Regions from separate parts of the Homo sapiens genome. Here all the other regions are linked to region 3. Evidence: fine-mapped expression QTL. A gene starts in region 3. Each other region holds a variant in brackets. All regions are shown on one strand. Distances are between the middles of the regions.

The links. PIP is the estimated chance that this variant, and not a neighbour inherited with it, causes the effect.
Region 1: its variant is fine-mapped to the expression of KHK in whole blood (TOPMed, PIP above 0.99). The same link has a PIP of 0.9 or more in blood mononuclear cells.
Region 2: its variant is fine-mapped to the expression of KHK in whole blood (TOPMed, PIP above 0.99).
Region 4: its variant is fine-mapped to the expression of KHK in whole blood (TOPMed, PIP 0.95).

What each region holds. Positions count from the first base shown.
Region 1 is chr2:26,944,813-26,952,812 of GRCh38, reverse strand. It overlaps DPYSL5 (dihydropyrimidinase like 5), which reads right to left. Exons shown (of 13, transcript NM_020134.4): 12 at 7,989-8,000; 13 at 2,462-5,903. The coding sequence ends at 5,818. It overlaps LOC124905979 (a long non-coding RNA gene), which reads left to right. Exons shown (of 3, transcript XR_007086251.1): 3 at 2,232-2,298. Among named protein-coding and RNA genes, the nearest start is that of MAPRE3, 22 kb to the left of the region's middle. RefSeq lists an enhancer at 2,744-3,244. The variant G/A (reference allele first, on the strand shown) is at 3,647.
Region 2 is chr2:27,134,411-27,142,410 of GRCh38, reverse strand. It overlaps PREB (prolactin regulatory element binding), which reads left to right and starts at 7,775. Exons shown (of 9, transcript NM_013388.6): 1 at 7,775-8,000. The coding sequence starts at 7,990. It overlaps PRR30 (proline rich 30), which reads left to right and starts at 3,001. Exons shown (of 3, transcript NM_178553.4): 1 at 3,001-3,108; 2 at 3,389-3,441; 3 at 3,717-5,563. The coding sequence starts at 4,082. The coding sequence ends at 5,320. RefSeq lists enhancers at 7,837-7,886, 7,362-8,000 and a silencer at 7,957-8,000. The variant G/C (reference allele first, on the strand shown) is at 3,350.
Region 3 is chr2:27,083,433-27,091,432 of GRCh38, reverse strand. It overlaps KHK (ketohexokinase), which reads right to left and starts at 4,661. Exons shown (of 8, transcript NM_006488.3): 1 at 4,082-4,661. The coding sequence starts at 4,173. EMILIN1 (elastin microfibril interfacer 1) reads right to left here. Exons shown (of 8, transcript NM_007046.4): 4 at 7,422-8,000; 5 at 6,902-7,018; 6 at 6,425-6,442; 7 at 6,136-6,273; 8 at 5,030-5,755. The coding sequence ends at 5,418. RefSeq lists enhancers at 4,408-4,467, 5,458-5,677 and silencers at 4,658-5,117, 5,168-5,327.
Region 4 is chr2:27,230,968-27,238,967 of GRCh38, reverse strand. CAD (carbamoyl-phosphate synthetase 2, aspartate transcarbamylase, and dihydroorotase) reads right to left here. Exons shown (of 44, transcript NM_004341.5): 16 at 7,388-7,500; 17 at 6,744-6,988; 18 at 6,274-6,520; 19 at 5,828-5,926; 20 at 5,432-5,656; 21 at 5,160-5,342; 22 at 4,742-4,960; 23 at 4,283-4,450; 24 at 3,541-3,723; 25 at 3,328-3,432; 26 at 2,445-2,684; 27 at 2,138-2,219; 28 at 1,423-1,589; 29 at 1,086-1,250; 2 more. Among named protein-coding and RNA genes, the nearest start is that of CAD, 18 kb to the right of the region's middle. RefSeq lists an enhancer at 6,287-7,486. The variant A/G (reference allele first, on the strand shown) is at 3,046.

The DNA.
Region 1 (8,000 bases), 140 kb after region 3:
TTATTTGGTACTTAGGAAAGGTATTTAAAAGGGAAATCAAATTTTAAATGTAGTTGAAAATGTTGTAAGGTGTTCAAGTTCATAAATGGAATCAAAGTCACCTTAAAAGCAAATGATAGAATTTGGTAGGGTTACAGCTTCTAATGGAACAATGAGGTCTACGAGGCAAACTGAAAAAGCTTAGAAAAGCATTTGCAGGCCTTCCCCACCCTGTGGCATCCCCGGCTACTGAGACTCATCAAGCCTCCAAGAGCTGTGTGAAGACGCTGGGCTTGTCATGCAAACCCCTAAGTCACCACCCACTGTGGAAGGACCCATCTTCCGCATCTCTTACAATGCCATGTCTTGTCTTTCAGCAATGGAAAAATTTTTAACTCCTGGACAGGCACAGTAATAGCCCAATGAATGTATAGGTATACAGAAAGTGACCATGTAATTTATTATACAAACCAGGACATGTTTGACAGTGAAAGTGGACACTGTTAATAATTATTCTGGGGCAATAGACTTAAACCAGGATTGCCCTGAGCAAACCAAGACATCTGGTCCCTCTAGTTCTAAATGTATGGTTGTAAATCCAGAAGGGAAAGTAAAGAACTCACTTTCCATCATAAGACAGTACCCAGTGTCAGCAAAATGCCAGATCCTTTACTGTTCTACTGGGAAAGCTCTAAGAGCCCTTTCAAATGTCTGTTGTTACAACACTGTCAAATAGCCTGTTATTAACTTAGGACTCTAAGGTCTACCAGCCCCTACATATCATGAGGTTTCTTCTTCACACCTGGGTGTCATGAGACCCTGTGTCTTCCACTGACTAAAAAGCAATTTTTTTTTTTTTTTTGAGACAGTCTCGCTTTGTCGCCCAGGCTGGAGTGCAGTGGTGTGATCCCACCGCCACGCTCGGCTAATTTTTTGTATTTTAATAGAGACTGGGTTTCACTGTGTTGCGCAGGCTGGTCTTGAACTCCTGAGCTCAGGCAATCCTCCCGCCTTGGCCTCCCAAAGTGCTAGGATTACAGGCGTGAGCCACTGTGACTGGCCGACCACAATGCAATTCTTAGCGTTAGTCTCTACCGGTGTACAGAGGTCAGTCTGTAATTCTGAGTTAGAAAATAGAGGCTGGTGGCTGCCTAGCTGCTGACTGGTGTGGTTTCTCCAAATCCGGATTCTCATAAATGATCAAGCCTTATTTTAAAGTCTGAGTCTGTGGTCTTTGATTTTTCTACAACTACATACATAAAAAGGCACCCTATGTCTTCCTGGGTATCTTTTATTTTTTCCCTGTAGACTGCCTGATAGACGCCTTGTGCCAAATGTGTGGTCATATTATTTTTTTCATCCAAACCCAATGGATTTTTGGCAGTTAACCCAATTCTGGTGTGCTCTCCTGTTGTGGGAAAACAGGGTAACAGACACTTTGGCCCAATACATTGCAGGGACTCGGCATCCATCTCAAGCTGGCAAATCCATCTCAACCTTCGAATTTTAATGTTAAGAAATAAGTACAGTGACCACATAGTACTAGAAGCCACAGTTTATTTTTATTTTTATTTTTTTTGAGACAGAGCTTCACTCTTGTTGCCCAGGCTGGAGTGTAATGGCGCGATCTTGGCTCACTGCAACCTCCGCCTCCCGGGTTCAAGCGATTCTCCTGCCTCAGCCTCCTGAGTACCTGGGATTACAGGCATGCACCACCACACCTGGCTAATTTTGTATTTTTTTTAGTAGAGACGGGGTTTCTCCATGTTGGTCAGGCTGGTCTGAAACTCCTGACCTTAGGTGATCCACCCGCTTCGGCCTCCCAAAGTGCTGGGATCACAGGCATGAGCCACAGCACCCGGCCTTAGAAGCCACAGTTTTACCCTTTAGTGTGAAAGAGTTTAATCAGATAATCCTCCTAACATCTGACTGAGCTCTAGAGGGAAGGTAGAGGGGTCTCAATGCAATGGATGGGGTTGAGACTACAGAGGGCCAACTCCAAAAGCGGGGTTCTAGACAGCCGGAGAGCAGCTGGAAGGTCCTTCAAAGGCATATTGGCCTTGGGACAGCGCTTTGTCTTGTGATTTTTTTTTTTTATGAGGCCATCGTTCCATCAGCCAAACGTTCTGCCGAGTGGAGAGGTGGCTATGGGCTTCCAAAATGGTAGCCAAGAGAATACGCGACTATAGGTAGATGGAGTGAGTCTAGTTTTTTTCCCTTTTGCATCTAATTCTTCCTCCTAATTATTTCAGATAATTTGGCAACCTTGTCCCTGGAAATCTGGCACCACTGGGGCTCCTGTCTCTCAGAATTAAAAAAAAAAAAAAATCCAGTCTCTGCACAAGCCTCCCAGTGAGCTGCCACCCAATAGGAGAGACAGATCAAAGCTGCCTTTTCTTAGCAACTGAAGCCTTGCCCAGCCACCGTAGAAGAGATCTCTGCCAAACTCCCTCCTCTTTGAAGAAACACAACAGAGTCCAAGTGAGAAGTAGCTACAGTTTAATACAAACCTGCACCAGAACACAACGTGTCGGGCTGTTTAGTTTTTGCCTCAAACGGTGGCCAAAGCACAGGACCATGTGTCGTCTTGGGGTTGACACAGTCTTAGCACCATGACATTTACAGGGGAGTGGGGAAGTCACCTGGGTGCTGGGGTGCTGGAGGCTCCATCCGACCCCAGGCTGTGCCTGCGCCTCAGCAGCTGGAGGGGGTTTGGGTTTCCTTGTGGTTCTGTGGCTTCTGGGTCAGTATCAGAAAAGCCCTCATCACGACATCGGCTTGACAGAGACCTACTGTGGACTCCTAGCACTACACACACGCACGCACACGCACACACAGTAGCACAATTTTCTGGCAACTTAACCCCACAAACCTAGAGAGCAGCTAAGGCAAGAACAACAGTATTTATTCAGCAAGTACAAGACCAGTTTGAGAGCTGCATTCAGTGCAACCAGAGACCCTTTCGTTCCAACCAGGAGCCAGTGGGGCTGGTGACGAAGCTGGCTGGAGCTCTGCACGGGGCAAGGAGTGCATGGTGGGGGCTGACCGCTCATTTGGCTCCTTGAATCTCTTTCTGATTTCTATCTAGAAGCTCCCGGGCAAGGGTAGGGCCTATGTAGGGACTGGGGGTGGATGAAGCGCATGGCCTACAGTGGACCACTCCAAGACGTGGTTCCCTGGTGCCACGGGTCACACATCTCTCAGGCGGAGGCACTCAGAGAAGGTAAAGCTTTCCTAGCCCAAGCAAGGATGCTCTGCCCAGCTGGCCACCACCGCTGCTGCTGGGCTCTTTGACATCTGCCCAAGGCCCATGACCCAGTGAGGGCTGACAGGGATAGAGATGGTGTGCACTGCACCAGGAGGCGGCGTCATGGTTTCCCCCATCCCTGGTGGCTTTCCCAGGCCTGGGTCCTCACCCCTGTTCCAATGGCTGCCACTTGCCATGAGCCCCTTCGCCACCTCTGCTCCCCGGCTGACCACCTCTGTCCTCTCAGCCCCTGAGTGAGGAAAGGGGGAGTGAAGGGAGAAGTGAGGGTGTGGACGCAGCTCACACTGCACGGTTAGCCCCCAATGGGTGACTAGTCTTGGCTCAAACACAGAATGTGCATGAGGTTGTTTATAAGAAAGATGAGAAAAAAAATCTATCTTCCTGTGCAAAACAAAGCAG[G/A]CTGCCTACCAGGAAAGTAAGTCTTCTCATTGGTTAAACTCTCAGGTGGGATCTACAATAGATGTCACCCCAGACCTCCTCTCCACAGGTGGGGTAGATAGCCAAGGTTGGGAGGGTCATCACAGACACTTCTGGGGTCAGAGGACCTGAACTTTCTGGGTCTTAGTTTCCTCATCTGTAAAATGGGAAGAATAATAAGTGCTCCATTGTCATGAGGACTAAGTGAGAGGTCATATACGGAAGTGGTTTGAATACATGAAAAGCACTACAGAGATGTGCAGGGGCTGACTTTTTTGTTTGTCTGTTTTTTGAGATGGAGTCTCACTCTGTCGTCCAGGCTGAAGTGCAGTGGCGTGATCTTGGCTCACTGCAAGCTCCGCCTCCCGGGTTCACGCTATTCTCCTGCCTCAGCCTCCTCAGTAGCTGGGACTACAGGCGCCCGCCACCACGCCTGGGTAATTTTTGTATTTTTAGTAGAGACGGGGTTTCACCGTGTTAGCCAGGATGGTCTCGATCTCCTGACTCCATGATCCACCCGCCTTGGCCTCCCAAAGTGCTGGGATTACAGGCGTGAGCCACCGCACCCGGCCAGGGGCTGACCTTTAACCGAGGGTCCAGAAGCCTCGCGCAAGCCTCGGGGGCTGAAATCACATGTGCAACATGAAGTCACTTCCCACGGGGCAGACCAGGCTTAACAAGGGCAGGCGGCTGGGTCACTTCCCAGATCACTGGAGGTGGAAGGAGACACCCGGCCTCTAGTGTTTCCATGGGAACTTCTGTGGGGCTTTAGAAGCAGGGAGGGCCCACCTGGATGGACAGGGGAGAAGATGAGGCCATGAGCTGGCAAGGGCCTGGTGCCGACCACGGGAGATCACGGCACCTGAGCAGCAATGCGGGTTCGACAGCCAGGTCCTGTGGGCCTGGGGTCTCCCTCTCTGGTGTCTGGCAAGCCCCTCTCCCACTCCTCCTCTCTCAGCAGGCATGAGGCCTCTTGCCAGTCACACAGGAGGAGCGCTGAGTCTCTGTCCAGCAGGAAGAAGTTATAGGAAGCCGTGCGTGTGTGTGTGTGTGTGTGTGTGTGTGTGTGTGTGTGGTGGCAGGTGAAGACAGGGGAAGGCAAGGGGAGTGCTGGGAGTGATCAGGGGCAGAGAGGGGAAAGGACACCTGCTTCCTGAAGGGCTGGCATCTCTGGGGCTAGCATCCCAGGCCCCCTTTTGGAATGTGGGAAACTAGACAAGGAGGGGAGGGGAAGGGGAAAGGGCCAGGGCCTCCCGCAGCCCAGAAGACTGCAGGCGGGGAAAAGAGAGGCCTGTGAGCCCAGCCCCCTCCACCACCCCTGCCCTGTGCTGTCTGGTTGGTGTCAAGTGCAGCGTCTCCTAAGGACCACATCTATTCCTGTCGCTATTCTATGCTAGTGACACAAGCACCGTTATTTTTCACAGGATGCACAAACAAGTCAAACCAAACTACTGCGCAAACCAAACGTGCAAAACAAAACCATTTACACGCGCCTGGCACCAGCCTCGAGCCCCGCCCAGCTACCCTTCTGGGCCTGTGACCCCCCGAGGGTGTGGGCGGGGCGCAGGAGAAGCTGGCGAGGGGCACCAGGAGTCCCAGCCACCCCCATCCCTGCCCCTACACAGGGCCAGAGGTGGGTTGGGGGAGATAGGACGTCCTGGGCATGGCTGGGAAGCTGACATCTGTCTGACTTGGGAAATGTCACCACGGGGCCTAAGGGGTGGGGGAGGAGGCCTTTACTTTGAAACCACATCTGCTAAAGTGCTCTGGGCAACTGGCCAGTCAGCCAGGGGGCAGGGCACTAAAGTCTGGGCTTTCCCAAAGCCAGCGGAGGCAGGAGTGAGAGGAAGGGCTGGCCAGGGCTCTATGCATTGGGCTCTGTGCATAGTGTGGGCTTCCTGGGCCCCAGAAAAGCCCGCCGAGGCCAAGGCAGAAAGGACTACAGCAGGAGGAACACATCTCAAAGTGCCTGTTAGAGTTGGCTCGAAGCACAGTGAATCACTTTGCAGACATAGGGAGGGCTCCGTGGGTCCCGGGGCCCCCCTCGGGTGGTGTGCCACCCAGCCCAGCCTCTCCTGCCCCTGCAGCTTCGGCTGGAGAGTTGCGGGCTGGTGGCGGCGGTGCGTCCTCACTCGGGGGGCTTGGCAATGCCTTTACCAAATGCCACTCGACCTGCCTCCGGGAGGAGCGAGGATCCGAGCTGAAGCTCGCTTTGGAACATGGTCATCGATCTGAGAGCCTGCAGGGAAGGAAGCACAGAGGGTGAGACGGGCTCTTGTGCCTGCTAACAAACCACAGACACCCTCTCCTGGAGGCTCACTGTGTGCATGGCCTGAGTGAATCCTCACAGCCACTCCATCCCATCTTATAGATGAGGAGACAGAGGCTCAGGGAAGTTAAGTGACTTGCCCCATGTTGCAGTGTGTAAGTGGCAGAGCCTGGACTTGGACCCAGGTTTTCCTGATTCAGAGCCGACATTATTAACTGCCCACTGTGCCAACTTCACTGCCCCATGCCTAGGCATACAGTCTCTCGTACATGCAGGTCATTGGCCAGCCTGTTGGCACATGGGCCTTTGTACATATGCCTCAGTGAGTAAGCGAGAGAGAAAAATGAGGGTATGCCATTGTTTCGGAAAATGAAAGAACCACAGCCCAAAGGCCCCGCATCTTGAAATCCCATGACTTAGTTACAAAGGGAGGGTCTATACAGGAGAAGGATTGAAAAAAAAAAACAAAAACAAACAAAACACAAAGGGAGGGAAAGGGAGGGTCTAGTGCCCCGGAGAGCCCAGTGGGACATTCTTCAGCCTGGCCTGCTTAGAACAGACAAGATTTGGGGTAGAGAGGAGGGGACAGGCTGCCTGATGTTTGCTGTCTGAGCGGGGGTTCTGCCCAGTCTTGGCTCTCAGGCAGGAGAAGAGGAGGCTGCTGGTCAGCAGGGGCCCTGCAGCTCTGGGGTCTTGGTGCCTCTCGTGGGTCTGGCTGCAGGAGGAAGGCGGTGGGAGTCCATGCCTCCGGGACTGGCAAGACCTGAGTGTGCATAAACAAGTCTTCCATGCCAGGGTCCCTTTCTGACTTCACTCATGGCCCGTCACTGGTGGGAGTGGCAGTGGCCCTCAGAGTAGCGGAGCCATCATCTCAGGAATGAGACTGGTCCTGAGAGAGGACCCCTCCCCATGGGCTACCAGCACCTCCAACAGGGACCTCATCTCTTCTGCCACAAGCTGCGCCTGGCCCAAAGCAGGGCACACAGGAGCCTGGGCAGGCAGGCGCTGACCCATTGGCATCCCTCTGGTTTAGCCCTCTGTTCTCACAGCAGGATGGTTTGTGTATGGGGCTTGTCTCCCCCAGTAAACTCCAGGCTGTGGGTGGAAGGACCAGGGTCTTGCGCCTCTCGCCGTACCCATCCCAGCACAGCCCTTACTGAGTGGGTGCTTGGTCTCTCTCTGGGCTTATCCTGAAGGCAGCTCAACTGTGCTCAGGGAGACTCAGGGTCCTAGCCCCCTGCAAGTGGTGGTGACAGTTCCCACCTAAGCCACCTGGAGGCCCGAGGCATCTTACAGCCTCTGCTTGTTCTCCACTGAGGATCATCATTTATGAGCCCGTGGCTCGCATGGTGATGGGTGCGGGGGGGGACGGGGGGGCGGGAAACTGCAGATCGTGGCTTTAAGAACTGGGATCGCACCCCCCAAGGAACCCAGAGATTCCACAGAAGGACTGGGGCCAGGACCCAAAGGACAGAAAGATAAGAGAAAAAACTGGGCATCAGAAGTCGAGAGAAAATATTTTACTTAAAGTTAATAAAATATATACAATACAATTCCTGGTAAAAAAAAAAAAAAGAAGGTGAAGGTGAGGCAAAGGCGGGGAAAGGTGTGGGAAGGTCAGAGGAGGAGAGGGGGTAGCAGAAGGAGTAGAGAGGCTGGTGAGGAGTGGGCTGGGGTGGGCGAAGGGCTGGTCGGTGCAGTCCCGTGAACCACAGACAGGGCTGACTCTTCTGAGCTCAGGGCATCTCTGGAGCACCCACTGTGTGCACAGCCCTCAAGATGTTTCAAGGGACAAAAATATCTGAACTTAGAAACCCCGAGCAGAGCCCCAGGTGGGCCATGGCCTATTAGAGCGTCTGTGCCCAGGGACCAGGACAGCCCTCCTGTCCCCACTAATGTCTATGTGAGTCTAATATCCAAACCAGCACTCATCCCTGGAAATAGGCAACGGGAGGGAGGAGAGGACACAAAAGAAAAGCAGGCGTAAGTCCCACTGCCTAGGTGGGCCACTTCTCCCAGACCCCCATCCTCCTCCCGTGGCCCCCTGACTCTTACCAGAGAGGCTGA
Region 2 (8,000 bases), 51 kb before region 3:
CCTTTCACTGCATATACAATTTACATGTGAGAGGGGGCTAAAGGAACAGTCACTTAACCCTTAGTCTGGCTCAGTGAATCTGCATTTTTACATAGACAGTAGGACAGAGGAAGCAAATCAGATATGCATTAGTGTCAGGTGAGCAGAGAGATGATGACTTTGAGTTCTGTCCTTTAGCCTGCACCTGTGAAGATAAGCTATCAATTTACATTGCCAAGGTGAAATTCAACAGAACTGTTTGGCCAACAAGGAATTTCCTTGTGGGCAAACTGTGAAGGAGGTATGTAGCTTTTTACAAAATCTTTTTCTTTTTGAGATGGAGTCTTGCTCTGTTGCCCAGCTTGGAGTGCAGTGGCGCGTTCTCGGCTCACTGCAACCTCCGCCTCCCAGGTTCAAGTGATTCTCCTGCCTCAGCCTCCCGAGTAGCTGGAATTACAGGCTCAAAACACCATGCCCGGCTAATTTTTGTATTTTTTTTTTTATTAGAGATGGGGTTTTACCATGTTGGCCAGGCTGATCTCAAACTCCTGGACTCAAGTGATCCACCTGCCTCAGCCTCCCAAAGTGCTGGGATTATAGCTGTGAGCCACTGCGCCTGGCCACTTTTTCAAAATCGTTGTAGCTATCTTATTTAGGAATAAAATGGGAAGAAGGTTTGCCTGATGCAGTTCCCAGCTACTCGGGAGGCTCAGGCAGGAGAATCGCTTGAACCCAGGAGGCTGAGGCTGCAGTGAGCTGAGATCGTGCCACTGCACTCCAGCCTGAGTGACAGAGTGACACTCCGTCTCCAAAAAGAAAAAAAAAAAGCATGTATGAAAAAGCCAGCCGAGCATGGTGGCTTGTCCCTGTAATTCTAGCACTTTGGGAGGCCAAGGCAGGCAGATCACTTGAGCTCAGAAGTTCAAGACCAGCCTGGGCAGCATGGCAAGACCCTGTCTCTACAAAAAAATACAAAAATTAGCCAGGCATGGTGGCGTGTGCCTGTGGTCCCAGCTATCTGGTGGGGCTGAGGTGGGAGGACGGCTTGATCCTAGGAGGTCAAGACTGCAGTGAGCCTTGATTGTGCCACTGCACTCCAGCCTGGGCAATAGAGTGAGACCCTGTCTCAAAAAAAAAAAAAAAAGAAAAGAAAAAGAATAGAAAACCCACAGCCGGCCGGGCGTGGTGGTTCATGCCTGTAATCCCAGCACTTTGGGAGGCTGAGGCGGGTGGATCACAAGGTCAGGAGTTTGAGACCAGCCTGGCCAATATGGTGAAACCCCATCTCTACTAAAAATACAAAAAAATTAGCTGGGCATGGTGGTGCACGCCTGTAATCCCAGCTACTCGGGAGGCTGAGGCAGGAGAATTGCTTGAACCCAGGAGGCAGAGGTTGCAGTGAGCCGAGATCGCGCCACTGCACTCCAGCCTGGGCGACAGAGCGAGATTCCATCAGCCCCTCAAAAAAAAAGGTCACTAAAGTTGGTATACAACACCCCACTGCTAAATTTGACTGGCTTTTAAAAAGATAGGCTAAGGATTTGAATATACAATTCTTCAAAGAAGATAAACAAATATCCCTTAGCACATGAAAAGATGCTCAACATCATTAGTCATTAGGAAAATGTAAATAAAAACCACAATATCATACCATTTCACACCCACTAGGGTTGCTAAAATAAAAAAGACAGGCAACAACATGTGTTGGTAAGGATAAAGAAACATTGGAACCCTTATACCTCGCTGATGGGATTGAAAATTGGTACAGCCAACTTGGAAGACAGTTTGGTAGTTACTCAAAATGTTAAATATAGATTCACCGTGTAACCCAGCAAGTCTGCTTCTATGTATCTAAAGATAAATGAAACCATATGTTCACATAAAACTTGTACAAGAATGTTCATAGCACTATTCATAATTGCTAAAAAGTAGGAAGAACCATGCCAGGCACGGTGGCTCACGCCTGTAATCCCAGCACTTTGGGAGGCCGAGGTGGGTGGATCACCTGAGGTTGGGAGTTCGAGACCAGCCTGGCCAACATGGCGAAACCCTATCTCTACTAAAAATACAAAAATTAGCCAGGCATAGTGGCCCGCGCCTGTAGTCCCAGCTACTCAGGAGGCTGAGGCAGGAGAACTGCTTGAACCCGGGAGGTGGAGGTTGCAGTAAGCCAAGATTGTGCCACTGCGCCCCAGCTTGAGCAACAGAGTGAGAATTCATCTCAAAAAAAAAAAAAGTAGAAAGAACCAAAATGTCCATCAATTAATGAATGGATAAACAAAATATGGCATATCCACACAAAGGAATATTATCTGGCAATAAAAAGGAATAAAGCGATGACACATGCTACAACATGAATGAACCTTGCAAACATGCGAAGTAAAAGAAGTCAGATACAAAAGACCATATATTGTATAATTCCACTTATATGAAATGTCTAGAATATGCAAACCTATAGAAACAGAGTAGACTGGTGGTTTCCAGAGGCTGGGGGAAGAGTGGGGACCAACTGCTAATGGGTACAGGATTTTTGGGGGGACAAAAATGTTCTAAAACTAGATTGTGGAGATGGTTCTACAACCCTGTGAATAAACTAGAAGACATCGAATGGTACACTTTAAATGGGTAGATTGTATGGTATGTGAATTATATCCCAATAAAGCAGTTAAGAAAATAGTTATTAAAACATATAATAGGTATATCCCAAGGGGGAGAAAGTTGTGGTGCATGAACTCAGCCCAGACAGGCTGTGTTAGTGGGGAGAGCAATGGATGAAGGAGGTGGTTGGAGCTGTAAAGTGTATAGGCCAAGAGTAGAGGTGGGGGCTGGGTCTTGAAGGAGAAACTGAGTGCACTGAAGAATTCTGCCTGCTTCACAGCGTTATCAAGGGCCAGCCTTTGGATGGTCTCTTGAAGAAGGTCCCAGAGCTTCGAGGAGGAGATTCTATGATGTCAGCACCTGACCTTTGTGACATAGGCACATGCTGCCAGGGGGGAACTGAACTCAGGGAATGGGGCCCCCAGCTCCCATTGGGGTCGGCGAACCTGGTGCCACCCCTTAGACAAAGTCCCAGTCTCCCAGAGGCTTTTACCAGCTGGCCCCATTCCTTCTGCTGCTGGGTATAATAAGGTATCTCTGTCTGGGCCAGGGTGAGCTAGAGGACATCAGCACTAGGGGCAATAAGGGGTCAGAGGAACCAGAGTGGCAGGACACTGGGATGCTTGCAGAACCCCCGAATCAGGATTAGGAGAATAAAAATCTGTACCACAGGCCTCCGCCTGGCTAAAGGAGGACTGAGGGCAAAACTCAGGGCTCAGACAGAAACCCGGGTCAGAGTGCACTTAGTGTTAGACGCTGGGGACAGAGAAAG[G/C]TGTATCCACCATTTGGTGACCCTGCTCCTCTCTCCCAGGTCCTCTCAACGCTGAAGTGCCTGTGAAACACAGCCCAGAGGAGTTCTCATTGGTAAGAGCGCTCAGCACCAGAACACCCTCAATTCCTGTTCCCATCTCAGCCCTTATCCCCCGAACCCCTCCTCCAACTCCATCCTACCCTCCCTTCCTCCTTATTCCTCTCCTCCCCACTTCTCACCTTCCCTGGAGCATTTTGCCAGTTCTTTTGATCCCAAAGGTGACATGGATTTAAAGTCTTGGTGAGTTCAGCTTGGAACTGGGGATATGAGGCAGAGCCAGAAATGGACCAATTCTCCCAATGTCTTGGGTTCTCTCTTTTCTCTCCAGGTCCTATGGGCTTTGTCTTCCTCTCTGCCCCACCCAGATAATCGCTGCTGCCCCTCCACTCCCAAGATGCAGCTGTGATTCTCCATCCCCACACATCCCTCATCAATGGTTGACTGCAAAGAAGTGAGAAGCCAAGCTTAGATTCATGCTCATGCCTGAACACCCTGAGAGCCTGGTGCTGGAGGGCTGGGTATCCCCTTGGCCTGCCACCAGCACCTGCACCCACACCAGGCTGGAGCCACGCTCTGCGCACAGAAGGTGGCCTTGATTTCTCAGGCACAGCTGACCTCAGAGATACTGGTCCTGACTCTGCCAGGTCTCTTATCCCTAGTCTTGTTGCCCCAGTTCCTTCTGGATTCAAGGCGATGTTGCCTCAAAACAAGGACCAGGTGCTGCCACAGACCTCAGTGCTCCCTGGGCGCCCCACTTGGGGCTTCTCACAACTTGTGGACTCCTCTCCTCACAACCTACAGCCTCTCTCTCCCCATCAGGGCCTCCCTCCCTCTCAACCACCGTTCTCTTCCACTCAGTCCCGTCGTCCCTCCTCCCCTCCACCAGCATCCCCCTCTCCTGGCTTCCAATTCGGCTCTTGTGACTCAAATTCTGACTTTGCTCCACATCCCTATTCTCCCTCTCTCCCAAGTTCCCCTACTTTCTTTCACCAGAACTACCTCTCTCTCCCCCGTCCACGTGCATCCTCTCCCTCCAACCACTGGCTGTACCCCTCTCCCCCTCTGACCCCTTCCTTTTCTCCCTCCCAGCCTCAGAACTCCTCCCTTCCCCACTCACCTTGCCAGTCCCCTTCCCACCCCGAGGAACTGCATAGCTCCACACTCACTTCCCCAGGCCCCAGCCCACCTTCTCATAGGCTCCACTCTAACAGGCAGACATGGCGCTGGCATCAGTACAGGGACACTGGGTCCGGGTCCCCTGGAGTGGTGGAGAGATGCGTGCCAAGCGAGAAGGATCCTGCACAGTTCAGGGACCCAGGGGCCCTGGCCCAGGCCCTGGTGGTCCAGCTGGGGCACCGCCGCATCGCACACGACCTGCGGCTACTGCTTTTGCAGCACCTGTGGCTAGGCAGAACCGGCCAGGCCCCAGTCGTGGAGTATCCTATATGCCTGGTGTGCCTCCGGCCCCGCAGCCCCTCCTGCCCCCTCCCCAGGTACAGGACTGGACCCCGGCTGCTTGCTTTCCCTCAACTACTGCCCTGTGTGCAGGGCCAGGAATCTGGGCCACTCCGGATAGGCATCGGCTTCGGCCTCCGCCTGCCTCAGGGCCAGGCCAGGGCCTTGCATCTGCTGCCCGAGAAAAGGCCGAAGGAAGCAGGGCCTCAGGGCAAGGCTACTCAGGCCTGTGGGCATCAATTGCCAGCATCTCAGCCTCCAGCAGCTCAGGCCCGGGCCGACCCAGTCCCAGGCACACCCTCCCAGACCAGGAGCTTCAGGTCTGCAGGCCTTCAATCACCAAACTCCCCACGATGTTTCTCCGGGCCTCCACCTCGGGCACCAAAACAGGTCACTACCTCCCTGAAGCCCAGGCCTTGCCCTGGCCCAAAGAGGCCAGTTTCTCTGGAGCTCATTCTCCAAAAGTCATCAGTCTAGTTCCAGAGCCACGGAGGCCCCCTGGAACACCCCCTCCAAACCCAACCCTCCCAACCAGGCCCCAGATCTCGGGGAGTCCCCGAGACACCCTGAAGGGCTGGCTGGCCGGAGGTCAGGTGTGTTCTCCTGCTCTGAACCCTGGGAGCCCCTTGTGGAGTCTGCTGTCTCCAGGCTGAAGAGGACCAAGGGCACCAAGGCCCCATTCAGCCCTCCGTGTATCTAATAAAGTCTGACCCTGTGAAACTTGTGTTTGCGTCCTGCTGAGTCCACAGAATAGGTGGCTGTAACTATAGGGGTGCCAGTCCCTAACAAGACCCTTGGTGGCGGGGAGGGGGTGGTTCATGCCTATAATCCCAACACACTGGAAGGCTGAGGTAGGAGGATCACTTGAAGCCACGAGTTTGAGACCAGCCTGGGCAACATAGCAAGACCCTGTCTCTCCAAAAACAAAAATATAAAAAAATTAGCTGAGTATGGTGGCGCGTGCCTGTACTACCAGCTACTCAAGAGGCTAAAGTGGGAGGATCACTTGAGTCCAGGAGTTCAAGGTTGCAATGAGCTATATCATGCCATTGCACTCCAGCCTGGGTGACAGAGACCCTATCTCAAAAAAAAAAAAAAAAAAAAGAGGGCATGGTGTGGTTGCTCATGCCTATAATCCCAGCACTTTGGGAGGCCAAGGTGGGCATATCATTTAAGGTCAGGAGTTACGAGACCAGCCTGGCCAACATGGTGAAACTCCATCTCTACTAAAAATACAAAAATTAGCTGGGTGTGGTGGCGGGTGCCTGTAGTTCCAGCTACTCAGGAGGCTGAGGCAGGAGAATCACTTCAACCTGGGAGGTGGAGGGTGCAGTGAGCTGAGATCAGGCCACTGCACTCCAGACTGGGCAACAGAGCGAGACTCCGTCTCAAAAAATAAAAAAGACCCTGGAGGGTGGTGTCAAAGGAAACGGAGAGGCCAGAAAGAGCAGGTGCCATGTATCCAAGGAGGACAAGGGACCCACAAGGCCTGGGGACTTGAGATATGCAGAGAGCTTGGCCAGGCCCTTCACACATCTAATTCAACTCTGTGGGACAGATATTGGCATCCCCAAAGATGAAGCCACTGCGCTATTCCTCTGGGTGCACCTTAGGTTAATGAGAATGCAGGAGAGGGCGTCTCTTTGCAGGGAAGGACATCCCTTGTGCTCGCTCTCAGGAGTGCACAAAGGTCCTCATCAGATCAGAAACCCGAGGGAGAATGGAGTGTCAGGCGCAGAAGATACCTGCCCGGGAGCCAAACTGCCCCCTCTGAGGCCAGCAAAGCAGCTGGCCACCCACCAAGCCACCAGCCCAGGAGTGTGAAGCCTTGAGAAAGGGAATGGCAGACACCACCCCTGCCAAAAGTGGGCGATAGGCGTTAAGGATGACAGACGTGTCCTCATACGAGGAAGCAATGGATTCAGCATTTGAAGTCAGGTTTATTTTTAAGTTCATGCTGCCTCCGTTAAGAAGCAAGAGACTCCGGTGGTTTCTGGTGTGTGCCCTCGGGCAAATCACTTCCTCTCTGAGGTAAGATGCAAAGGCCTGTGCTCCTAGGAGTTGGCATATCACTCCTCAGATGGGAACAGTCCTTATTTGAGGATTTTATGTGTGTGAGAGACAGGGTCTAGCTCTGTTGCCCAGGGGCTGGAGTGCAGTGGTGACATCACTGGTGGTCCAGCGCAGCCTCGACCTCCCAGTCTCAAGTGATCCTCCCGCCTGAGCCTCCTGGGCACCTGGGCCCACAGGTGCCACGATGTTTGGCTAATTTTTAAATATTTCGTAGGGACGGATCCCCATGTTGCCCAGGCTGTCTCGAAAGCCTGGGCTCAAGCCATCCTCCTCTCTCGGACTTTCCGAAAGTGTTGGGATTACAGGAGGATTACAGGCATGAACCACCGTGCCTGGCAGAGGATTTTTTTTTTTTTGAGACGGAGTTTCACTCTTGTTGCTTGTTGCCCAGGCTGAAGAGCAATGGCAATGGCGCGATCTCGGCTCACTGCAACCTCTACTTCCCAGGTTCAAGTGATTCTCCTGCCTCAGGCTCCCGAGTAGCTGGGATTACAGGCGCACGCCACCACGCCCTTTGTATTTTTGGTAGAGACGGGGTTTCTCCATGTTGGTCAGGCTGGTCTCGAACTCCTGATCCGCCCGCCTAGGACTCACAAAGTGCTGGGATTACAGGCGCGAGTCGGATTTCTTTATTAAAGGTTGACCTTCATCAACCTCCATTGGCTCCACCTCCTCCGCCCGCGCCCCGCGCCCCGCACAAAAATGGCGAAGTCGGTGCTGGGCGACTCTGCCTCCGCGCCAGGGGTGGAGAACCGAAGCCCCGCCCCGGGAAACGCGGCCCCGCGGCCGGCTAGTGCTGACGCGTGTCGGCGCTCCTGCGCCTGCGCGGAGGGAGCCGCGAGACAGGTGCGCATGCGCAGTGCGCGTCTGCGAGACCGACTTGGACGGAGCCGAGCTGAGGCTCGGCTTCCTGCTGATGGTCAGGGTTTTGGCAACTCCCCGGTGTGAGAGGGGTAGGGAGTGCTCCCGGCGGCGACGGGGCCGAGTTCACCAGCCGCCGGGGCAGTAGTCGAAGGCCCGGCGCGGCATGTCCTGGGTGCCGCGGTGCGGGCAGTGAACGCGCGCCGGGCGGGATGGGCCGGCG
Region 3 (8,000 bases):
TGGGAAAAGGGGAGCACGATGTCATTAGAAAAAAAATGATAGTAGGACAGGCACAGTGGCTTATGCCTATAATCCCAGCACTTTGGGAGGCCAAAGCAGGAGGATCACTTGAGCCCAGAAGTTCGAGACCAGCCTGGGCAACCAAAGGGAGCTCTTGTCTCTAAAAAAAAAAAAAAAATTAAAAATTAGCTGGGTATGGTGGTGCATACCCGTGGTCCCAGCTACTCAGGAGGCTGAAGTTGGGGGAGCGTATGAGCCCGGGAGGTTTAGGCTGGGGTGAGCCATGATACTGCACTCCAGCCTGGGTGGCAGAGTGAGATCCTGTCTCAAAAACAACAATAACAACAATGACAAAGGATAGTAATTTTTTTGTTTTTTTGAGACAGAGTCACTCTGTCACCCAGGCTGGAGTGCAATGGCATGATCATGGTTCACTGCAGCCTCAACTTCCCCAGCTCAACTGATCCTCCCACCTTAGTCTCCCAAGTAGCTGGGATTATAGGTGTGCATCACCATGCCCCGCTAATTTAAAAAATTTTTTCGTAGAGATGGCATCTTCTTATGTTGCCCAGGCTGGTCCCGAACTCCTCGGCTCAAGCGATCCTCCTGCCTTGGCCTCCCAAAGTGCTGGGATTATAGGTATGAGCCACTGCACCCAGCTGGTCAAAGATTTTCAAGCTGGCCGGGCGCAGTGGCTCACGCCCATAATCTCAGCACTTTGGGAGGCTGAGGCGGGTGGATCACGAGGTCAGGAGTTCAAGACCAGCCTGGCCAAGATGTTGAAACCCTGTCTCTACTAAAAATACAAAAATGAGCCGGGTGTGGTGGCAGGTGCCTGTAATCCCTGCTACTCGGGAGGCTGAGGCAGGAGAATCTTTTGAACCCGGGAGGCAGAGGTTGCAGTGAGCCAAGATCATGCCACTGCACTCCAGCCTGGGTGACAGAGTAAGACTTTGTCTCCAAAAAAAAAAAAAAAAAAAGAAAGAAAAAAGAAAAAAAAGATTTTCAAGCTGAGCTTTACAGCTTTACAGAAATTTTTACGAAAAGATATGAAAAAAAAGGAGGAATCTCGAGGGATCTGACTTGATCAATAGTTAAGGACAAAGCTGATGTGGGAACCCAATTTCCTGACCCCAAAGCCATTGCTAATTACTCCGTATTTTAAAACTAAAAGTTGTTAGGCCCAAGCATTGAGGTTTCTAAGAAAGGATATAGAATTTTACTCTGGGGAAACCCTTCAAAGTCACACTGATATTTCCTGTGCAGAAATGCTCAGCTAAAGGCTGGGCGCGGTGGCTCACGCCTGTAATCCCAGCACTTTGGGAGGCTGAGGCAGGCGGATCGCCTGACGTCGGGAGTTCGAGACCATCCTGACCAACATGGAGAAACCCCATCTCTACTGAAAGTACAAAATTAGTTGGGTGTGGTGGCACATGCCTGTAATCCCAGCTACTCGGGATGCTGAGGCAGGAGAATTGCTTGAACTCTGGAGGCGGAGGTTGCAGTGAGCCAAGATCGCACCATTGCACTCCAGCCTGGGCAACAAGAGCAAAACTCCAACTCAAAAAATAAAAAAAAGGACACGTCCCAGGGGTCTGGCTGAGCTCCAGGTGGCGGCTCCCAAGAGTCCCCAACTGCCTGTCAAGCACAGAGACCCTAGGACAGGTGGGGCTGAGACACCCAGGAAGGACTGGGTCCCCACTCGGATGTGCTCCTCTGGGAGGCACAACAGTTCAGGAGCCAGGCTGCAGGGAACCAGGGCCATGGGGCTGCGGGGAAGGCATGGCCTGGAGTGCAGGAAGCATGATGGACATGGGAAGGGGCCCTTTAGAGAAGTGCCTCGCTCAGTGCCCACCTTCAGAACCTGCCCCATCAGTGTGGGTGCTAGCAGGACCTCCTTCTCCTACCTTCCCGACAGAATTAAGCTGAGAGGAAATGGGACTTCAGCTCTGACAGAAAGAGGCGCTGAGTCTTTTCCCAGGCTCTCCACGGTCCTTGGAGAACCTGTGGCCCTGGAATTTGCACTGTTGCCCTGAGATGAACCCAACTCCTCACTGAGTGCCATGTCCTGTGGCTGCCTCGACCTTGCACAGTGGGTTAGGTCTACACAGTGGCATGCCCGTGCCCCTTCCCCAGTCCCTGCACCCCTGGCAAGGGGCCCTAACCTCTGGCAAACCAAAGCAAAGGGTCAACTCCAAGAGATGGTCAACAGCAAAGGGACAGGGTATACAGGAGATGACAGAGGGCAGGGACCCTGGACTCCACACTAGGAGACTCGAGCTGCAGCTGCCACTGTGCCACCATTTAACTCCGTGGCCTTAAAAAACATCTCCAAATCTTCAGCTTCCTTATCTGTATAAAGGATTTCACTGATCTTTACACAGTTCCCATGGGCTGCTGGGAGGAGAGTATAAAATAATATATGTGATGGTGCTTTGTGGCCCCAAAGCCTGAGGAGTGTCGGGGTCTCTCACCTCAGTTAGCCTGGCAGCCATCAGCACTGTCGTGTCTTTGTGGAGTTCAGTCTTGAACTGCCTCTTATCCAGTTCTTAGCTGCGACAACTGATATAGCCCAGGAGCAATTCTCAGTGTTCTAAGCACTCACTGACTGCACCAAGAGAAAGCTAGTGTCCCGCCCCACAGAAATGCCTTCACAGCATTACAGTGTAATGGTGGGGCCCTTATCAAGAGGAAATACAAGAACCAATAAGCCGGGTGTGGTGGCTCATGCCTGTAATCCCAGCACTTTGGGGGACTGAGACGGGCAGATCACTTGAGATTAGAAGTTTGAGACCAGCATGGCCAACATGTCTTTACAAAGAAAAGCCCTGTCTCTACAAAAGAAAAAAAAAATTAGTGGGGCATGGTGGCGTATGCCTATAATCCCAGCTACCCAGGAGGTTGAGGCAGGAGAATCGCTTGAATCCAGGAGGCGGAGGTTGCAGTGAGCCAAGATCATGCCACTGCATTCCAGCCTGGGCAACAGAGCGAGACTCTGTCTCAAAAAGAAAAAGAACCAACAAATCGGCTGGGTGCAGTGGCTCATGCCTGTAATCCCAGTACTTTGAGAGGCCAAAGCAGGAGGACTGCTTGAGCCCAGGAGCTCAAGACCACTCTGATCAGTATAGTGAGAACCCGTCCCTTATACAAAATTTAAAATACAGCTGGGATGGTGACGTGCATGTGTGGTCCCAGCTACTCAGGAGGCTGAGGTGGGAGGATCACTTGAGTCTGGAGGTCAAGGCTGCAGTGAGCATGGTTGCACCACTGCACTCCAGCCTGGACGACAGAATGAGACCCTGTCTCAAAAAAAAAAAAAAAAAAAAAAAAAAAGAACCAACAACTGACTCTTCAGTTTCTAGCAGACAACTGAGAAAGATATTTCCCACTACTAAACGGTGTTCATTGACCTCTGTGAAAAGGACTTCTGGTAAACTCCTCTTGGAATTTAGCACCAGGAAAAAGCTTGCCAGGGCTCATGAACCAGCTCTATCCATACATAACCCATGGCATCTCATGTTTGCCTCCAGTGCCAGCAAGCCCTGAGCTATAGTTGAAGCTCAAATACCATGGTCTTAAATGTTCTCCAACAGTTTAACTGTACATACTTTTTACTGTAAGCTACCTCAAATCTTTCTCAGAAATAGGTGCGAGATATGTGGATAAATAAGTTAGAAGTAAATGTTGATGAGAGGCAAGTGCATAGGCTTGGGGTTTAAAAAGAAACAGCAGAAGCAGGTAGCTGTGTGCCCCTGGATAAGCCCCTTGGTCTCTGAATCTATACTTATCAGTAAAATGGGGATCCTGATGCCTGACACCTGACACCTGATGCCTGAGTTGAAATGGAAATTGGCTAACACGATGCTATTAAATCCTGGGTCTTCTTATTAAAGGCCTCAATTCCTTCCTCTCTTCTGTCATGCTGGGAGCCCCCCCAGGATTCCCGGGTAGAGGGCGCGGGTCCGGCCTTGAAGCCGGGTTCTCAGGGCCTCACTGCGGGGTCTCTGCAGCCTCGGTCGCTGGCACAAATGCTGGACTGCAGCAGCCCCTGGGGTCCCCTAGGGGACCTGGGCGCCCCTACCTTATCTCCGAGTCCTCCTTAGGGTACTTGTCCACCAGGCTGATGACGTCCAGCACCACTAGCCCCACGCACAGGATCTGCTTCTCTTCCATGAGGCTACTCCCAGAGCTTCCTGCCCGCCCGGCTGACGGGGTTCCTCCCGGCCTCTGCCTCTTATCCAGGAGGATGGTGTCCCCGCTCCCAGCTGCCCTGGCTCCTCCTCCGCGTGGGAGCTCCTCCTCCAGGGAGCCACCTGCAGCGGCCAGGGGTGCAGGGAACGAAAGGAGCAGGGCCCTTCCTCGCGACACCCGAAGACCCGAGCGGGTCTAGGAAAGCCAACCCAGAGGTCTTGGTCCCCGGTCTTCCCGTAGCAGGTTGCCTGGGCCTGCAGATGGCAACGCCTCCCACTTCTCAGCCTTAGTTTCCTCGCTTGTCAGATGGACTCACAGCTGATGCAAACCTTTTTAAAGCGCGGCTAAGCGATCTCGAGAATGCAAAGAGAAAATGCGCTACTTGCCCCGCACTCTCCTGCACCTGCGTCTCCGACTCCCGACCCGGGACACGCGAGGTACAGCTGGGCCTCGCATCTGCAGCCCTGCCTGAAGCCCGCGGTCGCGGCGGCCCCGCCCCGCCCCGCCCCGCCCCGCCCCGGTTAGTCCCAGCCGAGGCCACGCCTCCGCCGCGGAGGAGCAGGACCCGCCGGGTGGGCCGCAGCCTCACGTGGCGGGAACGCAGAGCGCCCCCTGGCGGACGCCGGCGAAACGGGCGTGACACGGGGGAGACGTCGCAGGAGCCGGGCGGGCGCCGCTTGCTGCCTGAGCCAACCCCGAGCCGCCCCGAGCCGGGCGGAGGCGGCGAACGCAGTGCGGAACCCGGGGTCCTCTCCGGAGGCCGTCGTCTCTCCCGCCCCGTGCCCTGTGCACGCCCGGCAGCCCCCGACCCCGTACCGTAGCAGAACGGTTCGTTTAGTTTTTTTTAGAAAAACCAAGTGTCTTTATTCCTCGATCGTTTAGTATGGCGGTGGGCGGCGCCCGCGCGGGGGAGCCTGGAGCCCAGGGAATCGACCTGGAGGGCCAGTGGAGGGAGCGGAGGGTGCGAGGATCGGCTCCTCCGCAGGCCGGCCCTGGAGGGGTTCTTGGGGGATCGCGCCAGGCCAAAAGTCTGCATGGGCGGCCCCGAGCCTCCCTGAGCCGGCGCGCCCCGGGCGTGGGGAGAGGCCGCTCTGGGCGCGGTGCCGCTGCGGGCCCGGGTGCGGCGCTCGCCCAGGGCTAGGTGCCCCGTCTCAGGCGAGACCCCAGGAGCCCGCCGCCCCCGCTGTCTCTTCAGCCGACGTAGACACGTCGGGCGGGACCCCAGTCTACGCGTGTTCAAGCTCTGGGTCCCCATAGAGCAGGGCCCCGCTGAAGATGGTGAGCGGCTCCTCCGAGTGCGCCAGCTGCCCCATGACCAGGTCGACGCAGACCGTGTCCCCGGCCTGCAGCGGCAGGATGAGGCTGAAGACGCCCAGGGTGCCCGGGCTGGGCTGGCTCTCGGCCACCGGCTTATTCTCCAGGCCCTCAGGCTCGTAGCCACCGGAGTCTACGCGGGCCACGCCCTGGTTGGAGCGGGACAGCACGGCCTCCACTTTCTCGTGCCGGTGCCCAGTCAGCACCGCGCTCAGCAAGTAGCGTCCAGCCAGTGGCGCTGTGAACACGCCTGGGGACAAGGATAGCAGTCAGGGGGGCCAGGGAAGCTCCGGGGAGCGCACCAGAACTCCTGGACTGAGGAGGGACCCTCTGGGTCTTTTCACCTCACTGGAATGTGAGCGGCAGGGAACTGGGGGCTTTGTTCACTATGCATTCCCAGCACTTAAAACAGTGCCTGGGCAGGAGCAGGCCCCAGTAAAGATCTGCTGAATGAATGAATGACTACTTCTTCTCCCCACTGCCTGAGAATGAATAAATGAAGAAAGAGCCGGGGTCTCCCCAAATCAGAGAATGAAGATTCACACTGTCGGAAAAGGCAAGAATGGGAAGATATCACTGCACACCTCACCCATTTCTCCAACCGTTCAACCCAGCCCCTCCCAGGACTACCTGTCTCTGGATCATAATAGCCTCCATCATTGAGCAGGACTCTGTCGAAGGGGACCGTGCCTGGTTCAGACCGGGGCAAACTCAGAGCAGCTGAAAATGCCACTTGGGGCACAGGGGCTGCTGGTGCCCCCTCCACTCCTGAGTGGGAAGGGTGGATGTTAAAGGGGATGCTCAGGGCAGAGTGCCAGCCCCCTTCCCCTGCTGGATCCCCAGCCCAGGGCTGCCCGAGGACCTCTATCCTCCAACCCCTAGTCACTTCTCCCTCCAGAATCAAATGAAAGGCACTCACCCTGTTCACCTTGAGGACCTGTGAGAAGAGGAAAGGGAGCAGTGAGAAATAAAGCAGCTCTCACTAAGTCACTCAGCAAACATCTGCTGAGGCTCTCCTGTTGTGCTCGGTGCTACGTGGACTTCAAAGCAGGAATTGGGGTATCAAGAAAAACAGGAATAGGTAGGGTCCATTCTGTTCAACTGCTGGGCCATCCCAGCCTTTCACACCCCAGACAGCTATAATAGACTCAGCTTTAGTCTCCAGTACTGCAGTGGGGCCAACATTATCCATTAGCCTCCTAATACCCATTAACCAAACACAGTGACTATCACAGTTCCTCCTCACTTTCCTCTGATTTTCCCTTATCGGTCAGGTAGTACCCAATTCCCCTTGTCAAGTTCAGAGTGGAATGTCAAGCCTGGGGCTGCCAGCGGGGGTCAGGGTTGGAGGGGGCAGTGGCAACCCTGACTGCAGCAAGGGTCTCAGTGCACATACCTGGTGGCCCGATGGGGCCCTCTTGCCCGTCCTTGCCTGGTGATCCTGGAGGTCCAGCAGGGCCTGGGGGTCCCTGCAGCCCAGGAGGCCCTGGGGGCCCAGCCTCTCCTGCAGGCCCTACAGTGACAAAATTGAGTTGAAGGAGGGCCATAAAAGGAGTTTCCAATGGGTAAGGAAGGTGGGTGGTGGCTTCATGAACAGGGAGAAGATGGATGGAACAGGTGGAGCTTTGCAGGCTGAGGGGGCCATGGGGTCCCTTGCTGCATATGCTGGATCCCTGGCTGGCAGAGCAACATCCTCTCTCCACCCACAGGCCTAGTGAGCAGCCAGAGGGAGGGCGGGAGCTAGGACCTTGCATCATCTCTTGCAGGCAAACTATAACACCTGGAATACTGGCTGGGGCTGCAATTCATGTTGGGAAAAGCAAGGAGAAAGCAGATGAGTTGGAAGCTGGGCTGGGGGAGGGAGAAGAAAAATAAGGGGCTTGAAAGGGGTCCCCTCATGCCTTTTGTCCCCTCACCAGTGAGGTCCTTCAGGCTGAGCTGGTGCAGACGGTCCTCCAGGAGCTGCAGGGAGCTGTTAAGGGCACCCAGCCGCCTGCCCAGGCCCGCCTGTCCCCCGACCAGCTTCTCCAGCAGGGCTGCCTGCATCTGGCTGGTGGTGTTGGTTTCCCGGAGCCCAGCCCAGAGCCCAGCCACGTGTCTGGAAAGGCCCTCGCGCAGGCCCTGCAGTCCCCCAGCCACAGTGTCCAACCGTTCACAGACACCCTCAAGACGGCCCAATCGCCCCTCTAAGCTGGGGCACTGGCCGGCCTGTGCTTGTCCCTCCTCTAGGCCTCGGAAGCGCTCTTCACTCTCTGTAGCATGCTCTGTGGCCTCCTGCTGCAGCCTGTTAATCTCAGAAATGATACGGTCCTTGGTTGCCCCCAGGTCAGCCAGATCAGCGCCCTGGCCCTCCACAGTGGTCTGGAGCTCATTCAGTGAGTCATTGAGGGAGCTGAAGCTGAGAATAACCTCAGAGAGCTCTCCTTGCAGGGCCTGCAGGGCTGAGCCTGAGCTGCCCCCAAACACGCTGAAGCCGTCCAGGGGCCCACGGCTTG
Region 4 (8,000 bases), 150 kb before region 3:
CACTTCCAACAACCTCCTTATGCTCACTACCACTCCCAATGCTCATTTTTTCTGGGAACTAGAAACAAGGGCAACAGGACTGCTGCCATCTTCTGGAGCCCACACTTTTACCCATGTATTCTTTCACTTGCAGTTCTACTCACTGGCTCATTCATTCTTTCAACAAGTATTTATCAGGCACCTATCACAGACCAGGTACCCTAGAGGCTAGGGTCCCATACGGATCAAGACCCTGTCCTAGTAGAGTCCTGAGGCCTGGCCTGCTTCCCATTTTCTTGCTAGGGCTGTCCCACAAGCCCCACTGGGCAGAGGAGGTACATGCTGGATTCTCTCACCATGGTCTGAGGCAAAGCAGTCGATGACAGCCATGTTCTCCCACAGGGCTTCCACATCCTGGCGGGAGCCAAGCTCAGGCCGGACCTCCCCCTTCCCAGGCCCCAGGCGCTCCAGGTCATCATGGCTTAGGAACAGGTGGTGGGGAGCCACCTCGCAGGTCACTGGCAAGCCCCGTGCCTTTGCAGCTTTAATTAGCAGGATCTGGGGAACAATGGGAAGATCCAGAAGAGGCACCACCCATATGCCTTGCCCTACACAAAGTCCCAATGGCCAACATCCCTGCTCAAAAAATGATGATGTAGACCTGCAAGGGTGCTGGCTCGAGACCCTCCTCCTGCTGTCTCCAGACTCTCCTCCTGCTGTCTCCTGCCCCTAAGGACTACCCTGACCTTTGGTGTTACTGGGAAAGCAACAGGGACAGCAGGATCTCAGGTGTACTCTTACCTCCTCCTTCCGTGCCACGTGACATATGTGCACTGAGCGCTGAGTGAGCTGAGCCACCATGAGGACAGCAGCCACGGTTTGCTGCTCTGCGTGAGCCACAATGGGGAGGTGGGAGGGCCATGTCTCGAAATGCTGGGAGCAGAAAGAACTGATGAAGGAGTGTGCAGAATCTCTGACTGTGCTCATCAGAGCCCAGAGTCCCCAGGAGCTCCCCTGAATCCTCACTGCTACCAGCCCACTTAGGCAGGGGCCCACAAGCCAGGAGACACTGGGTGGTGGCCTCCTGCCACATGCACACTCCCTACCTCCATCCACTGGACCACGCTGTCCAGCCGCAGCTCAGAGAAGGTCTCATTGAGGTAAAGCTTCAGCCCGGCTGCAGACCCGGCCACGGTGCCCAAGGTTCCTGCATTTTCAGACGAGGCCCCAAGGAATAGCGCAAAGTCGCACCGGGCGCCAGCCTCTGCCAGCTGGAGAGGATACACAGAGGTAAGGCTCACTGGCACCCATGCCCACACAGGCTAGCCTGGCACCAGTGGCCTGGGCCCATAGGGCGGGGCAGAAGGAAAAGGGCTCAGGGAAGCAAGGGTGGCTGGTAGGGGCATATGGGTCTCCAATACCAGGAAGAGTGCAGTGGCTCACCTTCTGGGCCAGGGCCAGAGCAGGGGCGTCAATGATGGGGGGCCGGGTATTAGGCATGGCACACACCATGGTGATACCCCCAGCCAGGGCAGCGGCTGTGCCTGAAGCAAAGTCCTCCTTATGTGTCCCACCTGGTTCCCGCAGGTGCACATGGACATCAATCAATCCTGGGAGAAAATGGAAGCAGCAAGATTACAGGAAGATTCAGAAATAGGAAGGGTGAGCTGGACATGGTGGCTCACGCCTGTAATCCTAGCACTTTGGGAGGCCGAGGTGGGCAGATCACCTGAGATCAGGAGTTCGAGACCAACCTGACCAACATGGTGAAACCCCGTCTCTACTAAAAACACAAAAATTAGCCTGGTGTGGTAGCACACACCTGTAATCCCAGCTACTTGGGAGGCTGAGGCAGGAAAATCGCTTGAACCTGGGAGGCGGAGGTTGCAGTGAGCCGATATCACACACCACTGCACTCCAACCTGGGCGATGGAGTAAGACTCTGTCTCAAAAAAAAAAAAAAAAAAAAAATTCCTCAGACAAGGCCACTGTGGACACTGTGGATTAAGGAATGAAAGAGTGAGAAACATTCTGGGGTCTTCACAGTCTGTGCAGTCCAGGACAAAGAGTGGGCCCCCCAGCCATCCTTCACCACACTGCAGGTCTCTATGCCAGGGGCTGCCAGTGTTCAGAAGCCAAGTTCTCCCCAAAGACTTACCCGGCAGTCGCACAAGCTTTTGGGAGGTCATACAGTCAACATGCACCTTCAAAGGAGGGGCTGGCCCGATCTGGCCTAGGGCCTGCAAGTGGAAAGCAGTCAGCTTTAAGGGAAGGGTGATCCTGGGAGTTGTAGGGAGAGATGTGGTTTTCCCATAAACCAGGCTCTGCACACTCTATACCCACCATCTCTCCCTCTGTAGCCACAAAGCTTTATTACTAGCATGGCTGTTCCATACTCACTCCTCCCTCTTTCTTCTTCCCATCAACACTGGCAGTCTCCCTCCCAGCACATGGGTCTCAGTTACCTCCACAAAGAGTTTGGTGCACTTGATATCGATGATTAGGGGCACGGAGAAGTCAGCGGCCAAGCGTCGGGTGCGGTAGCCCTTGGTGACAAAGGAAGAGAGACGCCGGCCCCCAGCTCCACGCATTGACAGGTTAATCACCAGCTCAAAGTTTTTCTCAGCTAGCTGCTCCAGGATGCTCCGCTGTGGTGGGCACTCACCATCCACAGCCTCCTCAAAGTGCCAGTCCACAGCTGTTACCTGCCAACCCGGAGTCAAGGTCAGGGCCAAGCTGTCTGGCAGCGGTCAGGAAGGCTAGCCTTAAGGGAGAGGAGCTGGCCCAGGAGCCCATGATGAGGAGACTGAGGACCCATAGGGTGGGCACTGAGGGCTGCCTCTATTTGATACTGGCAAAGTGTATTTCTTGGCAGGAAAGATATCTACACTAAGTAAGATGGGTTACCAAGGACTAGGTGCAGTATGAGCTCACACACATGTACACAGAGAAAATCCTGGAAGGAAAAATATCAGAACAGTGGTACAGAGATTTTAAGAGACTTTTCTCTTTGCTTCCTGTGTATTCTGCTTTCTGCATGGAATATAGCTTACTAGTATAATGGTA[A/G]TAATAAAAGCAGGGGAATAGGAGATAATTCTTTGTTTTTTTTTTTTTTGAGACAGCATCTCACTGTTTCCCAAGCTGGAGTGCAGTGGTGCACTCACTGCACACTCGCAGCTCACTGCAGCCTCTACCTCCTGGGCTCAAGAGATTCTCCTGCCTTAGCCTCCTGAGTATCTGGGACTACAGGTATATGCCACCGTGCCCAGCCCAGATAATTCTTTGGTGCAGTATTTTCACCCCCTTGGGGAAGGGCAGCAGTGGGGTAGGTTGCCAGAGTTCCTGCACCTTGACGCCATGCTCAGTGTAGAAGTCAGCTGTGCCGAGACTGGCATAGAGGCTGTAGCCCAGGCTCTCCAGTAGCCGCACAGTTGGGAGCAGCTCGCTTTTGTTCTGAAACCAAACAGAAGGATGAAATTGTTTTCTTCCTGTCTTCCATTTCAAGGTCAGCCCTGGCCCAGGGAGCCACGGCCCTCGGGAAGCCCTCCTGGATTCTGATACCTTATAGCTGCCAATGGTCAGCAGGATATTCTTCTTGGGGATCTTAAAGCCAGTGCTTAGCATGGCCTTGAGGTATGCCTCACAGCGGCTCTCCCCAAAGCCGGCCACCTCCCCAGTACTGGTCATTTCCACACCCAACACCACGTCAGCACCCGCCAAGCGGGAGAAGGAGAACTGAGGCACCTAAAGGGGCGGGAGGGAAGAGAGAGGGCCAAGGTGTGAGAGGACCTCCTCCCTCACCAGCAGAGACGGACACAGTACCCTGTGCTTGATCCCATCTGAATGGCAGGGTCAGCCTGCCCTCTCTGTGTGCCCTCCTGCTTTCCAAACGTACTTGGGGTCATCCCTCAGCTTCTGCTTAGGATGTGCCCTTGCAAATAAAAAACCTTAACCATCCTTCAAAACTCAATTCAAATAGCACCCCTTCGCTCAAGCCTTCCCAGATCACCCCTTTTGGAAGCAGCACCTCCTGTCTCTTGAACTCCTGCAGCATTCTGTTTACAGGTCGAATATGTAGTTTTACCACGGACTGTTCTATACCAAAGCTTTTTTGGGGATCCAACTTCTCTTCCCTCCCATTACCATAAAGTAAGCTCTTAAGGGACAATGACCACCTCATTACCCCCACGATCCGGCAATGCCTTGCAGTCAGTGCCTGGTTTACATACTGACAACTCTGTGTGGTGAGTGAACTCTCTCCCGCTATTTTTCTGCTAACCCCAAGGGTTTCGATATTCCTTACCTTTACTCCCACGACTCCAGAACCAGTCATTAGCCCCACAGGTTCCACTTCTTCCCCCATGATGACCCGCGTGGCCAAGGCTACTAGGTCCACACCCAGTGTCTTGGAAACGAAGGGGAAGGAGCGAGAGACACGTACGTTGCATTCAATAACTTTCAGCTGGTCATCCTGGGGCAGAGAAGACTGGTCAGGCCTTCTGCAGGTTGGCCTTGCTGACACTATCTATAGGCCTAGACTCTTCCTCTCCGTCCTCAGCTCTGGGGGATCAGACTGAGCAGGGTTCAGGGTCACTGACTGTCATAAGCCCCAACACCATGAGCTCTAGCTACAGCCCTTTCCCTCCAGCTTCCCTGCCTACTTGGATGAAGGCAGGAGACAGTGCAGGGCTTCATGGCACTGTGGCCAGCACAGAACATGCAAGAGCTGTGGCCCTTTAGTTCTTTCCTTTAGCCTTATTACCTTGGCAATGAGCTGCAGATTGAAGGGTCCTGTGACCTGTAGCTCCTGGCCCACAGCATGCACAATGGCTTTGATCCGCTCCAGGGTTTTGGCAGTGATATCTTGTGGGGGGGTCACCAGCGTCGCATCACCTGAATGCACACCTGCATTCTCCACATGCTCAGAGATGGCGATGGCTGCCACCACACCATCAGAGGCCACGGCATCCACGTCAATCTCCTAGCGGGGGGACACAGACAGTGGGACATAGGGCCACTTTCTTCTCTCACTTACTCTAGGATTGTCTCTTCCTTTAACGAGCCCCACATAGCCCACTGTTCCCAGCCCTGGTGCCTATGATTCTGCTGGACCAGAGAAGGAAGTCTCCTCCAGGGCTGGCAGCATGCCCTCAGAGACTTCACTGTCTGCAGCCTCCCACCTTAGCCTCCTGGATGAACTTGGAGATGACCACGGGATGCTCTTTGGAGACGGCTGCTGCGCTGCTCAGGAAGCGCTCCAGGTCTCCATCCGTGTAGGCCACATTCATAGCAGCACCGCTCAGCACATAGGAGGGGCGCACCACACAGGGGTACCCCACGGTCTGGCAGAATTGGCGAGCAGACTACAGGAGGCAGGGAGCTTAGCTGAGTTGTTCACACTTTCCCCCAAGCATCATCCAGCCTCCGGGTAACCCACCAGGTCCCAGCCCACCTCGAGGTCACTGAGCTCCCTCCACTGAGGCTGGCTGATACCAATGGTGTCAAGGAGCCGGGAAAACTTGAAACGGTTCTCAGCCGAGTCAATGGCTTCAGGGGAGGTGCCCAGCACCCGGCACTGCTGCCGATGCAACGCCATGGCCATGTTGTTGGGCAGCTGTCCACCCATGGATAGGATCACACCTTCAGGGTTCTCGAGCTCATAGATGTCCATCACCACCTACGTTGCAGGGGGAGAAACAAGTGGTGGCAGCAAAAGAGGGCAGGAATCTGAGCCTTCCTGCTCACTGCTTCCCTCAGCCGCCACCAAGTTTCAAAGAATCTTAGGTCAGCCAGCTGTTCTACTCGACCCTGGCCACTCAAGCTACCAGGAAGCCTCCATCTCCCTCACCTCAAAAGAGATCTCATCAAAGTAGAGTCGATCACACATGTCATAGTCGGTGCTGACTGTCTCTGGGTTATAGTTCACCATGATGGTCTTATATCCCATCTGCAAGAGGGAGGGGAAGGGTACTTAGCAGTCAGGTGGGAGGAAAATCGTGGAGAAAATCGTGGAGAAACTAAGCCAAAGCCCCTACTTCAGAGACTGCCAGCACAGCTTCCTCTGAAAGAGCTGTACAGGACCCCTGCCTTGGGAGGGAAGGAGGTACAAAGTGTTGGGGAAGAGATTCATATACCGTGTGGGGCATGAGAGATGGCCTAAAAGGACCCCCACCCCAAAGCTCTATGACCAAAGTAAGGGACGGCAATTAATAGGAAATGCCAGGATTAGTGCCAAGCAATTGCTAGAGATGAACAGAATAGCAAGGAAAGTGGAAAGAAAATGAACTCTCTGACCTTTCGGAGCTGCTGGATGCAGCCTACAGCACACCAGTCAAATTCAACGCTAGAGCCAATACGGTAGACGCCAGAGCCAAGGACTAGGACATGAGGTGTTCGAAAGGTGAGGTCATGGGTGGTGCCCCAATACGTTAGGTATAGGTAATTTGTCTGGGCTGGCCACTCAGCTGCAACTGTGTCAATCTGTTTCACTGCTGGACAGATCCCCAGTTCCTGACGCAGCTTGCGAACAGCCAGCTCTGTGCTAAAATAGAAAAAGGGTCTGAAACACAGGCCCAGAGAGTAGGGTACAGACTGATAGAGGGTTGAGACCCCAGGGCACAGATGAGAGGAAATATCCTTGGAACCAAGGTCAGAAGCCTCTAAAGCTCTCCCACACTCTCCTTCCTCCCTCCCAAGGGTCCCTCACTGATACAAAGGTTCTGCCCCACATTTCCCAGCCGGAAGCTCTCATTGCCACCTCTGACCTCAGAACTGCAAGGGCAATCTGTTTGTCTGAGAAGCCAAGACACTTGGCCTGTTGCAGCAGGTCTGGCGGCAAAGGCTGTCCACGGTGTTGTTCTAGCAGCTGGGCATGTGCGATGATACGCTTCATTCGGTGCAGGAACCAGCGGTCGATGCGTGTGAGCTCATACAGGCGGTCCACTGAATAACCAGCCCACAAAGCAGCTGCCACCACAAAAATCCGCTTATCTGTTGGAGTCTCCAACTCCTGATAGAAAGGGGGTAGACAGACGGAAGCTACTGCCAGCCCATCTAAAAGCCTGAGCGTAAGTAGCTGCTCTTGTCTCAGGAAGGGGAAACTGTACACCAGAGCACAGGCTGTGTAACTGCAAAAACCTGGATACCAATCCTGGGTCTACCTCTCATTGGCTATGTGGCTTTGAGTAATTTCTATAACCTATGTCTCAGTTTCCTCATCTGTAAAAACAAGTCTAGTAATACACCCTTGCGTGCTAATGAGACATCTCAAAATTCTCAGCAAAGTGGAAACAAAGCAAATGTCCAATGATGACTGCTGCTAGTGTTACTGGTAACAAGCTCATGGTCTGGGGGCGATGAGAAGCAGGGTCTATTTTAGGGGTATTGCCAGGGGAGGGGAGCTACTTACCATATCGCTGACTGGTTTCACTGTGTGATCAAAGCCCACACAGTTCTCATCCACCATGCGCAGGGCCTTCTGGAAGGCCTCCTCAAATGAACGCCCAATGCCCATGACTTCACCTGGAAGAACAGAATGGAAGGAATGAAGGTGTGGAGGTGGAAGGGGTGGGAAGAAGGCACTGCCCATAATGCTTATGGTTTATAGTCAAGACTCTGGGAGATTCTCAAGGCAAGTCACATGATGGTGGGATTCATGGTGTTTCACAACTAAGAAATCTTAATGGCCGGGCGCAGTGGCTCACGCCTGTAATCCCAGCACTTTGGGAGGCTGAGGCGGAAGGATCACGAGGTCAGGAGATCGAGACCATCCTGGCTAACATGGTGAAACCCCGTCTCTACTAAAAATACAAAAAAATTAGCCGGGAGTGGTGGCGGGCGCCTGTAGCCCCAGCTACTCCAGAGGCTGAGGCAGGAAAATGGCGTGAACCCGGGAGGTGGAGCTTGCAGTGAGCAGCGATCACACCATTGCACTCCAGCCCGGGGAACAAAGCGAGACTCCGTCTCAAACAAAACAAAACAAACAAACAAACAAAAAGAAATCTTAACTTATAGCTCTTTTC